2 linked regions of the Homo sapiens genome follow. Each later gene encodes a partner of the first gene's protein in a complex. Each region holds a gene or a part of one and is shown on either strand. Other genes may lie near its edges. A codon is read from its position in the direction of its gene.

The links. Proteins that work in one complex are often made in the same cells at the same time.
Region 2: the proteins of PTAR1 (region 1) and RABGGTB are in contact, whole or in part, in a crystal structure (PDB 6O60), measured with the Homo sapiens proteins. Residues at the interface, in NP_001093136.1 of Homo sapiens: Val61, Lys62, Leu65, Pro66, His69, Leu73, Arg76, Leu97, Asn98, Asp100, Phe101, Thr102, Thr103, Asn106, Lys109, Glu110, Leu113, Ile141, Arg144, Trp145, Pro192, Ser193, Tyr195, Ser199, Ile202, Trp203, Gln206, Val231, Ser232, His234; in NP_004573.2 of Homo sapiens: Lys6 (codon at 315), Asp36 (codon at 225), Tyr37 (codon at 222), Cys40, Met41, Glu43, Tyr44, Ile89, Gly90, His91, Asp92, Asp136, Trp138, Glu140, Phe177, Asp178, Gly182, Cys183, Arg184, Pro185, Gly186, Ser187, Glu188, Ser189, His190, Gln193, Trp217, Glu221, Arg222, Pro225.

The regions. Positions count from the first base shown.
Region 1 is NC_000009.12:69,711,236-69,715,190, reverse strand, and holds part of PTAR1 (protein prenyltransferase alpha subunit repeat-containing protein 1), read left to right. Parts: 3' UTR 1-3,955.
Region 2 is NC_000001.11:75,784,224-75,787,823, reverse strand, and holds the start of RABGGTB (geranylgeranyl transferase type-2 subunit beta), read right to left. Parts: upstream 1,569-3,600; 5' UTR 1,553-1,568; coding exon 1,550-1,552; intron 753-1,549; exon of another isoform or gene 675-752; intron 328-674; coding exon 220-327; intron 1-219. UniProt on the Homo sapiens protein: Catalyzes the transfer of a geranylgeranyl moiety from geranylgeranyl diphosphate to both cysteines of Rab proteins with the C-terminal sequence -XXCC, -XCXC and -CCXX, such as RAB1A, RAB3A, RAB5A and RAB7A.

The DNA.
Region 1 (3,955 bases):
CTTGTTTAAACTTGTTAAATCCCAGCCAAGAAATGCAGCTCTGTAATTGTCAATTAACTGTATTATAATATATATTAAAAATTTGTAGAGCTAAAGAACCCACTTGCATTAAGAACACCACTTTCTGTTCATTTGTGATACTAGAGGACAGATCCTGCATACAGAGCCGAAACTGCTTTTAATCATCTGAAGAAATTCTTTGATTTCAGTGACTTACTGATCTGTACCTGTGCACATATCATTTTATGCTTCTCCTTTTTTCCCCGCAACTTGAACTGTGACTCTTTCAGATATTTCTTAAATCTGTATGAGTCATTTTTTAAGCTTAGGGATTTGATATGTATTAATGTCCCCTTTGTCTTCTGTAGATTTTAGCATTTTATTACCTCTTAAGAAACTCTGGGCCCAGACTTTCAGTCATATTTCTTATTCCTATGGTACAGTTCTCACTTAAAGGCTTAATTATTAGTAGGGTTAAATATATACAGGTTATCTCTAAAAGTACTTAAATTTTTAAATAAGGGCTTATGTGATACAAGATACGGAAACAAAAGTTTTTGGATTTTTATGCAGTAGTTTGCAGGAAAGCAAATACATAGTAGATCGTATGCCACTTAGGTATGTTCAGGTCATGCCAGTTTATTCTTGTTGGGCCACACACACATGTATGTGTGTGTAAAAGGAATTTTTAGTATTGAAGCAAACAAATTGTCAGTTTAATAATTTTCTCTTACATAGCACAAGATGGCAGATACCACCTACTGTACAACAATCTAATAATCCCTACCTTAGTTCCCCTGAGTTATAGAAGATGCTAAAGATTTAGTTGTAAAGGGAAGTAACATGATTTTTTTTTTCTAAAAAGCTGTTTTAAGCTAACTATTATTTTGCTACTGGAAAATTATATTTTAAAACTTACAGATATTTAAAGTATGCTAGAAAATTTGAACCTGATAACAACTGAACCTTTTGTCTTGAATAAATTTCTCAAATAGAACTGTGCAAACCCTAGCACTTTATGTGTTGCTGCCTCCCCATACCTAGGTATGCTCTGTAATAAGCTCCCATTTAATGGAGAGATGTGTGGAGGCACTGAGAAGTTAATGAAGAAAAATCAACCCTAAGAATTCCTTATTGTCACATAGTGTCTTTTAAAAAATAACTGTAGAGACTGTGTTAATTCGAGTGCCTTTCTTACTTTTTTGGGAGCAAGATTATATTTAATGTTTAAGAAAACAGGATGGAAGTTTTATCAAACAGTTGATTGTGGCCCATTGTTTTATTTATTCCCATCGCTAGGCATGGCCCCGTAGGGTATTTTATCCTTCAGTGAGAGACTGATATAAGCAGGCAGGATGCTTTGATTATTCCATTAGTTATCATTTTAAGCACCCTACCAAGATTTAGTTCTTTCTTTCTGGCAACTAACGTTTTGGGGGTTGGAGGCATCCCATTTAGAGGATGGTGTGTGCACAAATAGATTAGCCTGAAACCTGCGTCCAAAGGGAAACAGTGGCACTCTGCCCTAAAATAAAGGCCAGAACGTTGTCCTAAATGAATCCTTTGCCTTACTTTAGGACCTTCCTTCCCTCTCAAATTCAGGCATAATGTAATATAGTTGAAAGGGGGAAAACAGTACTTGCTTTCTCTCAGGTATTGGAGGAAAAGAAGTAAATGCGTAGATGAAATTTTAAATGTATCATTTTATCTGTTTGTATATGGAGAAGGGAGGGATAGGAATTCCATATTTCAAGATAGCAAATATAATTTCATAGAAATATATAGCTAAAGATTCCAAAGTGCTTTTACAGAGAACTGTTGAATAATATATTCCTAAAGGGCAGCAATATGCCATGTTCATGGTGAAGACAGAAAACCAATGAATCAGTTGTGGATCTCAGGTGGGAGAGGAAACCTCAGGCTCCCAACTTTGACTTCTCTACTCTCACCAGGCCATGTTAACACTGTAAAACCAAACTCTTTGCTAAGAACAATACAGGGCAGTAGTTTAGTCTGCTGATGAAACCTTGTGCTTCCAAGAATATTAGCTATATATAATTTGTGCTTTCTGGATGATTCTATTGTCCAGAAAGCTAACCCTGACGTTACTTTTATTAGTCTGTTGTTATTCCTCAGGGTGTAGAAGATTTAGTAAATTCAGGACAAATTTTATATTCAGTGGCAAAAAGAAAAGGCAAAAATATGCTAAATATATTATTAGCTCTTAAATTTTAGTATAGATCGTATTTTTTATAAACTATTACCAGTACAGTAGCTAGTAGATATTCTGTGACTGCCTCATTGTTTATCTTGCTGCTTTGGTCCCTATGGCTCTAGTATGAACATTCTCGTGTCTTCTGTGGAAATGATTTCTGTGTTATAGTTCCATCTTTGGTAGAGGTGGGGATGATTGTATTTTGTTTTAGTTGACATCATTCTCAACTTTTAGAAATACTGTTGAGGAAAATGATTACCGTTGGTTTTCAAATTGACAACTATTTTGCTTCCAAAGACTTCAGTTTCCCTTTGTTTTATGTGTAGACCTCATATATGTTCAACACATTGCATACTGCCTTGCACATTGTAGGAATTCAACAAGTCAAGAGTTGATAAAAGCTAGAAAGATAAAACTAGCTTAGCTATCATATCATCATTGTCCATATTCTTAGCTTTGGGAAAAATATACCATTTTGCATAAAATACATAATCAGTTTCAAATGCATAAGGCAAAGATATACAGTTGCACAACATTGCAAGTGAAATTTACAAAGGATTTTTATTTTTGTGTATGCTAAAAGTGCTCCTACTTAAAGCAGTTTTCTTTATTAGACCAACACCTTCCAGCAAAGTTAGAAACCAAACACAAGTGCTCATTTGCCCAAATTAACCAGATAGTTATGTAAACTGTTCATATTAAGTCTTTAGTGGTTTACAAACAATAACATTCTGGCTTTTCTTCCATACCTTTTAGGAATCAGCCTTAATTTTAAGTATAGCAGTCACTTTCCTCAAGGTACTATGCAGCATACTTTAGATTGCTTATTTATCATTATAAGGTGATAGGTAATAAATTTGAGGTTTACTTGTCATATAATTTCATATGGCAGATATTGATTCAAGGAGCATTCTATTAGAAAAAGTTGATAAATTATCCTCCCTTACAAATATCATCTTGCATTTGGAGCAGGTATTTTTTTCTTATTAGTTAAAGACTGGGTACAGTTATAGTAGATGCTCAATAAATGCTTAGTCAGTGATTGATCTAACATCAAACTAACAGCTTTCAGAAAGGAGACTGTTGACATCTTTTCACCAAGGAGTATATTTGTAGAGTAATATATGTGTGGAATTTTGAAATTATATCATTTGACATGATTTATGAGGCTTATTTAAGCTGGAGTTAGTAACGTAATAGAAGTATTATTTATACAGAACATAGTTGAAAGATAGGAGATGTGAAAGATTAAGTAGTATTTTCTTGTGCAAGGCATATTAATAAATGTAATTAAATGTCTTAATAAGCAGCTGGCTGAACTCTAGAGAGAACTGCTGTAGTCTTCTGCAATCAGTCTCTGTATTGGTATATCCAGTACTATCGGGTTTAGGTTCTTTTTATTTTTCCTTAAATCTTACTTGTTTCTAGCGTCTTAAGAGTGGTAATGGTAAAATGTGAAGTTACAATAAACTTCTGCTTGTTTTCTCAGAACATCTTTGGCATGAGGAAGAACTTTTTGTGAATGATACAGTAGTCTCAGCATCTGTTAATTTGTGGTTTTCAAAGCATTTTTGACAGAGTTTACCTAATGTAAAAAGATTAAACAGTTTTATAAAACACAAATAAACATTCCTACCTGAACTGTGAGGAACAGAGTGTATAGTACAAATGTAATTAGGCATTGCCTCCTGGCGAGGTTCTTGATGCATGACTTCGATGCTGGCTGCTGACTGAGGTGAC
Region 2 (3,600 bases), on another chromosome or scaffold:
TGTCTGGCAAGCCCTCTCAGTATAGGTAAAAACTGAGATTCTAATAAGCCCACAGCCTCAGACGTCCAAAGCACACTTAACTGAAGTTCAAAGGCACAGCACATCCTCAGTTCTCTGCATGGAGTTGGATGCCATTTTAAGACATAAATACTGTCTCACTGCTTATGACTGTCACACTTCTTTAAAATAAACTTTCCAACATAAAAAAATTATACATACATAATCATCTTTCTTTGAGCCATAGGATGCGATATAATCTGCATGTTTCTCCAATAACAAAGTGTCCGGTGCATCTGACTTGATAATAACATCCTTCTGTGGAGTGCCCTTTCAAAATAAAGTGGTAATCTCATCAATGTTTACCTCTACAACGTTCTTCTGCCCCACAGCATAGATTCAACATACATCTCAATTTTCACTTGATTTCATCTTGTAATAGGAAAACGTTCCATTTAAAAATTGTAACTAACTAGGGAGGCTGAGGTAGAAGATCGCTTGAGCCAGGGAAATTAAGGCTGCAGTGAACTGAGGTTGTGTCACTGCACTCCATCCTGGGCGACCGGAGACCGACTCAAAAACAAAACCAAAACAACAACAACAACAACAAATTGTATCCAACAAAAAAGAACTTAAATCATTCAGGCTTCGTCTTAGTCACGATTCAGGTAATTTTCAGGTCTCAGAGTAATTCTAGAGCTAAAGTAGTAATAATCAACTTTAGATTCAGAATACATGCCAACTCATCATTGACCCAAAAAATTACCACCAGCATTTCTTGTTGTTCACTTTTCATTCAAAAAGATAAGTAAAAAATAAACACCATAGAATATCAAAGCTTATCATTTCAGGACAACTTACGGTTTACATGTGGCAGAAAGCATATTTTTAAAAAATAAAAAAATCTAACCCTTAACTTGCAAGCGAATTCTTGCTTAATCAAATGCAGGTTTCAAAGCACCTTCTAAGTACCCCAAAAGTTGTTCAAATGTATTAAATAAGCAGTTCCTTTAGCTCCATCTTCTCCACCTTTAATCCGAGTCTCTGTATTTGCAGAAGTCCCCATGTGATGCGGCTCTAGTTCTTTTCGTATCTATATCTTCCTCATTGAGAGTACACTGCAGTCACTATAACAGGTCATGAAGATTACCGGAAGTGATTAAGTACCGAATTTTCTTCTGATCCCATTAAAAATCTTAAAGCGAGACCACATCACTAACGATTTTAAAGAAATCTTTGACACCCCCTCTCCAAGAAAAAAAAAAGCCACCAATCAGCCACAGCTTTTTAGAGGGGTTCAGAAATCGGGCTGCTCAACTCTTAACAGGCCCTCCCTACAGAAGAAGGCCTGGATAAAATTAGAAGCGGCATTGCCCGCGAGGTCTGCAGAAAACGCTGAGTAATATTTCACACTCAAAAAACCTTCCAAGGCCTGTGTCCTAACCATTCTCCAGCACCAGGAAACCAATCCTAAGGTGACCAGTGTGCTTAACCCTACTCCACCCTGTCTGCTACCAACCCATCCGGACAGCAGCGCTAAACTCACACTTACCATGTCTAACAGGGAAAGGAGAGAGCAGGGTCAGTTCCTGGGTAGACTTAGGAGCCGGGCGCCTGCGCAGATGCGCCTCTCAGGCCCCCATCGCGCTCCGATATAGCTGACCACACTTTCGCCTGCAAGGCAGAGCAGTTCCACGGCTGCCGTAGGACCCCACTGATCGCTCATAGGTGTCCTCACTGCCTGCGTCCAAAGTCCTGCGACCATATGCTTGTCCCATAGTCACTCCGATTTGTCTAGAAACAGTTTTAAATAATATTTAAATATCTGAGTTGCTTTTAAGAAATCATTTGTTCTAGCTGGACGCGGTGGCTTACGCCTGTAATCCCAGCACTTTGGGAAGCCGGACAGCAGGATTGCTTGATCCTAGGAGTGTAACCACCCAATATTGTGGTTCACTTTGCCTGCTGCTGACCGATAGCCCATTTATCAAGACAGGGGACTTGCAATGGAGTCTCCCCAAGCAGTATTCAGAGTTTTTAAAGATAATTCGGCGATTAGGGGCTTGGGAAGTAGGGAGTGCTGATGGGTCAGGTTGGAGATGGACTCATAGTGGGTAGACGTGAGTTTTTCTTGCTGTTTTCTGTTCCTGGGTAGGATGGCAGAACTGGTTGAGCCAAATTACCAATCTGGGTGGTTTCAACTGATCCATGGAGAGCAGGGTCTGCAAAATATCTCAAGAACTTATCTTAGGTTTTACAATAGTGATGTTATCCCCAGGAGCAATTTGGGGAGGTTCAGAAACTTGGAGCCAGAGGCTGCATGACCTCTAAACTGTAATTTCTAATCTTGTAGCTAATCTGTTGGTTCTGCAAAGGCAGACTGGTCCCCAGGCAAAAAAGCGGTCTTTTTGGGAAAGGGATATTATCAATTTTGTTTCAGAGTCAAACCATAAACTGAATTCCTCCCTAAATTGGTTCAGCCTAGGCTCAGGAATGAAGAAGGACAGCTTAAAAGTTAGAAGCGGCCGGTGGCTCACGCCTGTAATCCCAGCACTTTGGGAGGCCAAGGCGGGCGGATCACGAGGTCAGGGGATCGAGACCATCCTGGCTAAAACCCCGTCTCTACTACAAATACAAAAAATTAGCCGGGCGTGGGGGTGGGCGCCTGTAGTCCCATCTACTCCTGAGGTTGAGGCAGGAGAATGGCTTAAACCCGGGAGGCGGAGCTTGCAGTGAGCAGAGATCACGCCACTGCACTCCACCCTGGGCGACAGAGCGAGACTAGTCTCAAAAACAAAAGTTAGAAGCAAGATGGAATCCGTTAGGTCTGATTTCTTTCACTGCCATAATTTCCTCAGTTATAATTTTGCAAAGGCGGTTCCAGGAGATCCAGACCAGCCTGGGCAATGTTGCAAGACCCCCGTCTCTACAAATAATAAAAATATGAGCCAGACGTGGTTGCCCAAGCCTGTGGTTTCAGCTACTGGGGAAGCTGAGGTGAGAGAATTACTTGAGCTGTGGGGCAGGGGGTGGAGGCTACAGTGAGCGGTGATAATGCCACTGCACTGCAGGGTGTGAGACAGAACGAGACCATGTCTCAAAAAAATAAATCATTTGTTCTTGAGGCCCTTTGCACTCTGAAAATCTGAAATGGCTGTTAATTAGTAGAGTGCCTGCTTACACGTAGTAAGTGTTCAATGAATATTTTTTAAATGAATATTAATGAAATGTTCACATTTCCTTCCTGTTTGCCTTATCTATCTCAAGGTCCAGCCCTGTACCCGCCCCCTCTCCTCGCCACACACACAGGCCACCCTCCCCACCACCACCACCGCCACCACAAACACTTCTTCGGAGAGTGCTAATAGTAAAAATATTGGAAGTTACTTTTTTTAAAAAAATTATACTGTAAGTTCTAGGGTACATGTGTACAACGTGTAGGTTTGTTACATGGATATACATGTGCCAGGTTGGATTGCTGCACCCATTAACTCATCATTTAAATTAGGTATTTCTCCTAATGCTATCCTTCCCCCCTCCCCCAACACCATGACAGGCCCCTGTGTGTGATGTTCCCTGCCCTGTGTCCAGGTATTCTCATTC